Regions from separate parts of the Homo sapiens genome. Here region 2 is linked to region 1. Evidence: fine-mapped expression QTL. A gene starts in region 1. The other region holds a variant in brackets. All regions are shown on one strand. Distances are between the middles of the regions. Region 1 holds the start of UBE2E2 (ubiquitin conjugating enzyme E2 E2). Region 2 has its middle 89 kb from the start of UBE2E2-DT.

What was found.
Region 2: its variant is fine-mapped to the expression of UBE2E2 in skin (TwinsUK, PIP 0.92).

The regions. Positions count from the first base shown.
Region 1 is chr3:23,201,858-23,204,767 of GRCh38, forward strand. UBE2E2 (ubiquitin conjugating enzyme E2 E2) reads left to right here and starts at 1,470. Exons shown (of 6, transcript NM_152653.4): 1 at 1,470-1,607. UBE2E2-DT (UBE2E2 divergent transcript) reads right to left here and starts at 1,136. Exons shown (of 2, transcript NR_136176.1): 1 at 1,007-1,136. RefSeq lists enhancers at 143-1,118, 531-590 and a silencer at 941-1,630.
Region 2 is chr3:23,112,113-23,115,022 of GRCh38, forward strand. No RefSeq gene overlaps it. Among named protein-coding and RNA genes, the nearest start is that of UBE2E2-DT, 89 kb to the right of the region's middle. The variant G/C (reference allele first, on the strand shown) is at 1,562.

The DNA of each region.
Region 1 (2,910 bases):
TCTGAGGACAAGGATTTTTTTCTTTTATTCAATGTCATATATCTACCACCTAGACAGTGCCTGGTATCAATAAATATTCCTTGAATAAATGAAAAGGGTAACTGATTTGTATTAAACCCATTTTGAACTTAGTAAATAGCAGTTAAAACATCTACAGTCAAATGAAGTACTGTAGCAACCATAATTTCAGCAATTAAGCAGTGAAAGATCTTCCAATCCTTTCCTCCACAAAGATAGAAGTTAATTTTGCTGCATCCCTGGACACCCCGTTGCCAACGACCCAGCATTCCGTTGGTAAGTGAGGCTGGAGGTTGGAGTGGGAGAAATTTCGTGGAAGCTAAGTTCGCAAAGCAGGTACGTTTTTTTTTTTTTTTTAAACGGTTATTTGGGATGAGGAGTACAACGGAACCTAATGTTCCCTCATGCCACCTACAGCACTGCTACTGTTCCCATATCCTTCAACTGGGCATGAAGGCAGCTTCCCACTCACTCTGACAGTGGTGCACCCTGTACCCCCACCCCTCTCTTCAATACCCCAGGGCTAAACGGCCCGAAGCTCCTCTCTACCGGCTGGTGCGCATTCTGGGCCAGGGCGAGCCAAAAGGCAGAAGGGCCTTCGTGCTGCAGTGTCTGGTGAAGACTCAGGCTTAGCCTGGAAGAAGTTTCCAGGCCAACGTGAAGTTTTCCTGTCTTGGGTACATGCGAGCCCCACGCGTCTGCGAGTTTGGGTTAGTGTGTCAACAGGGTCAGTCCCCGTATCTACTTTGCGAAAGCTTCGAGGCGAGCGTGAAGTCAAGGGCTGCGGTGGATGGGGGTAAAAGGCCTCCTCGTCCCACTGCCTGCACCGTCTTGGGGTAACCCCTAACCCCCAGCCGGCGTTTCCCTTTAATGCGCGTGCCCGGCAAGGTCCTCGCGTCCCCTCCCCTCAAGCCACCCCGTCAGCCTCGGTTTCCCCCACTTCTCCCCGTCCTTGTCGTTCCTTCCCCGTGGGACGCCCCTCGCTCACCCCCGTCAGAGCCCAGTCTGCGCGCGGGACCCAGCTGTCACTTTACTTTTCCTCGCCGCCTCCCCACCCCCTCTCCCGACCGGCGGGGCAGCCCGCCCGGGCGCGCTCCCGCCCCCGCCCCCTCGCGGCCGCGCGCCGGAGGAGGAGGGGCGGGGGGAGGAGGGAGGCGCGCGGCGCCGCATGGCCGACGTGGGGCTCGCGCTCTCGCGGTCTCTCCCGGGCGGGCGCGCAGGCACGCGCACTCGCGGGTGCGCGCGCGGACGGCCGGGCGGCGGCGGCTCCCGGAGGTGGTGGCTTCACTTTCCAGGACTCAGGGGCAGCCACAGCGACAGCCGCGGGCAGCAGCCTCAGGAGCCGGAGCTGGAACGGCCGGGGGCGGCGGCAGCGGCGGCGCTGAGGGTGAGTCCGGGCGGGCGCGAGCGCGGCGGGGACAGGCGTGGTCGGGTGCGTGGTGCGTGGGTCCGGCTTTCGGTGACTAGACGGTCCGCAGGGGACATCCCGTCCCTGGGGCCTCCCCAGTCTCCCTCCCCCTCGCGCCTGGGCAGCTCTCTCCCAGGGCTTCGGCTCGAGCCTGCGACCTGCACGGACACCCCCCCCTCAGGTATTCGCTCGGGCCGCGCCGGTGCCTCCCCTCCTCGGGCGTCCTCCCTCTCGCTGACGTCCTCCTCACTCCCCCGACCTCCCCTCCGCGTCGCAGGTCTCTGCTTACACCGCTCGTGCCCTAGTTCCCTCCTTCCTCGCTCCCCGTGCCCGGTTCCCTACGCCCCCTCCCGCGAGCCTCCTGCCCCCGTTTCTCGCCCTTTCTACCCCTCCCCCTTCTTCCCATCCCCCCCTTCTGCCTCTTCTCTCCCTGTCCTCCTTCTACCCCCTTCCGTTCTCAGTTCCCCATCCTTCTCAACCCTCCCAGCGCTTTCCTTCTCCTAGCCGCATCCTGGAACTAAGTCTTTTCAAAAGTACAGGATAAATGTCACGGTGGAAAGTGCCCGGCTTGATCTTTTGCTATTTTCCCTAATTGCATAATTGCTGCACATGGTGTGTCTCCTGGCGAGTGCCGGGTTTGGCTCCTTCGCCGCCGCACCCCGGTGGCCCGCCCGGAGAAGACCTTGTGGGGTATATTTGTGTGTGTCCTGGTGAGGGGTGTGTGTTGTATTGGTCTTTTGTGATGCCTGGCGCTTGTCACAGTTTGGAACCGAAGCCCATTTTTCTCTGGTCTCTTCTCTGCAGCCCCCACTGGCCTGGTTTGAAACTGGATTCCCTCTGTCCTCTCCCCCTTCCCGCCCACCCCACTTCTCCCCCTCTTTTCTCCGATCTCTCTCATAATGTTTTGATCTTTTTGCCCTTTACCATTTCTAATGAAGATAAAGCGTGGCTTCTTGTGGCTTTTTTCCCCCACGACCAACCAGAAATGTCCAATCCATCTTCCCTTAAGGAAATTAAGGCTGCTTTAGAAAGACATCATCCTGTGCTCGGTGGCTGTTAGACCCATTTGCATGTTTTCAAGATTCATCGTTTTGTATTGTGTATTCTTGAGAGTCTACTAAAATATTTTTATTTAAAAGTACGAAAGGAAGTGCTAGGGTTTACCCTCAAAGTATCTCGCGGTTCTAAAGGATTTTACGCTCTTCTTAGTTTTTAATCCCTGATTTCTTTAAAAAGTATGTTTCTAGATATGTGATAATTCAGTCTGGACTTTGTGAATCTAAATATTTGCCTTTACTACGGCAATTTGGATGCTCCTTGGCTCTTTGGAATTCTGTATGTGGGCTGACGCTGAAATAGAGTGTTTTCATATAATGCCATACCCCATTCTCTTTCCCCTGCAGCACCTTTTACCCCCAAATCAGGTGTTCCACTGTTATTTTCTGCATAAATGTCTTTGCAGTTAAATTTAAAGCTGGATATTG
Region 2 (2,910 bases), 90 kb before region 1:
AGCCAAGTTAGTATAACACGCTAACCAAGACTTTAATTGCTCCTATCTAAATAATCATTTATGAGCCCACCTGGAATTTTGATCTATGGAACTGTGTGATATAATAAATGAGTGTTCTTATAAGCCACTAAGTTTGAAATAATTTGCTACATAGCATTAGAAAAGAAATAAAATATAGTATACATCATGTAAACATTTTAAAAATACACAAAACTGATATCATATATGTTAGGGAATCAGCAAACTGCACCCCCCGGGTATATCAAGCCCATGTCTTGTTTTTTACAGCTCATAAACTAAGATCAGTTTTCACATTTTTAAAGGTTTGTAAAAATTGAAAAAGAAGAATATAGGACAGAGACTGTATGTCATTCACAAAAACTAAAATATGTATTATTGTGCCTTTTACAGAAAAAGTTTGTTGACTCTGCTACATACTGTCTGCTATAGTTTCAGGATGCTGGCTGTGCTGGATGTCTTACACTTGTCCCCTCTGGGTCCATTTCCCAACTTCCTCCTTGCCCAGGCCTGTATGGACTATGTCAGCTGCCTTCTGGCTCCTGGTTGGGTGTGGCCAGTAGGGGCAGGGCCAGGAGACTAAAGGACAGAGGAGAATGAGACTGGGGTGTTGATTTGCCAGCTCCCTCCCTGCAGTGCAGCCTGAGGCAGGTTGTGTCCCTCAACCAAAGGACACAGATCCTGTGAAGACTGCCCACTCTGTGCCATTGTCTCCTCTGGAATCCAGTAACTCTTCTCTCCCTTCTCCCGTTTAGGCCTAGGGGTATTAGCACTCGGATACCCACTGCGATTTCCCTACATTCTGCCCACACCTGTGTAAATGGCATTTTTAATGAATACTCCTCCAAATTATTCACCTCAAGTGTGACATCTGCTCCCCACCAGGATCCTGACTGAAACACCCACAAAATTAATTATAGTGGTTACTTTGGGTGAGAGAGGAAAAAGAACAAGGGATGAGAAACAGAAAGCTTCAACTTGATCTTTAATGCTGGCTCTCTTTCATTTATGGAAGGACTAGAAACAAATATGACAAACTCTTAATAATGGCTGATTCTGGATGGCAAAAACAAAGATCTATCTGGTTTGTTCAGGCATATATATATATATATATATATATATATATATATATATTTACTCTCTCAAAATTAAAAGACTTTCTCAGCCACATTGATTACTGTTTAAGACTACCAGAATCATCTATCTATTAATAAATTAATAAATTCAAATCATAGAGTCTGCCTGACCAGCCCCAGTCTTGCCTGGTTGGCAGGTGAATCTCCTAACTAGTTGCTTTCTTATCACAACTTGTAACAGTCAAATTCCCACTGGCCTTTATGCTCATCACCACCCGAGGCATGAAGCCGCAAAAGCAACACAGCCCAACTGACTCGGTAGCCTGGCGGTCAGCACTTCTCCCAGATGCACTGTTCCATGGCTCCCCTTCTCCCCCGGACCTCCTTTAGTGGGCTCTCTGTGTTGTTTTCGGAATGAAGTAATAAACCGTCACTGCCAGTACTTATAAAATGTTCTGGCTTTATGG[G/C]ACAGCATCTCCTGCTGCTTTGGGCACAAGTCCAGTTTAAGCAAAGAATCTGGAAGGAGAGCAAAAAGAGTTTTCTAACCATTGCACTAAGGATGGTAGAAAAGAAAAATTAGATTCATGGCAAAAAAAGAAAAAAAGCTCATCTTCAGGACAAATACCAAAAAATGGGACTACTAGCCTGGATCTGACTAAATGAAGTTATAAACATGAAATCCTTGGATTAATCATGAAAGTTTTACATGGGTTAGAAGACACTCCTCCAACACAAACAGCCACAAAAGGCTATGTCATCACTACACCCAAGATGATGAAATACCTGTTCATCACTTCATAGTCATCCTTTCCTTTATATAATCTACTCTGCTCATCTGAATTCTGACTTTTAGGGAAGTGCCTTTTGTGAGTTATGTATGCTCAGTGGTTTTACGTGTACTTCATTTTTTACCAGCTGTGACAAGATTCTTAATCTTCATACAAGAAAAGCCAAGCCCGTGCAAGAACAACCTGTCAGGGATACTTACAGCCTTGTAGTTAACTCTCTCCTGAGTGTGATTTAATCAGCAAGGTACTGCTGACAATGTGTAATAGAACATTGTAAAAGCTACAGGTTAATACCTCCGAGGGTGCCAAAGGAGATGCCATAAAGGATATGGCAGTGAAATGAAAAAATGATTATTATTTAGCATTTATTAATCCTAGGTGGTATGCTAAACTCTAAAGAACATAGCATAGACAGAAGCAGATTGCCTCTGAAGTTCTGTGCTTTCCTCAACAAAAATGGAAGAGACTCTTACAACATTATCTCTAAATGATAATATGAAGTAGAAACAGCTTGAATCCATGGACAATGGCAGAAAAATACCAAAATAAAAGCCAAAAGGATTTTTGATGTGTATGTCCTCCAACCACAATCTGCTTTCATACACAGCACAATCTTGTGTATCTACCAGGAGTCGACAAACTACAGCCTATGGGTTCACCACCTGTTTTTGTAAAGTTTCGTTGGAACACAGCCACATCCATTTGTCTACAAATTGTCTGTGGCTGCTTTTGTTCTACAACAAGAGTTGAGTACTTATGACAGAGACCATATGGCCAGCAAAGCCAAAAATATTACTACTTGGCCCTTTGCAGAAAAGGCTTACTGACCCCTGGTGTTGTTTGAATGGGAGAAAACATGATCTAGACTTATGATTGTCTTGATAGAGTTACTTATCAATGTATTAATTTACAAGTATTCATTCAAAATTAAAATTCAATCTAGCTTCATGAGGCATATATAAAACGCCTATGTTTTTGCATAGTAGAGGAATGCACATACCACAGTGAAAGTTAACACATCACTTTTC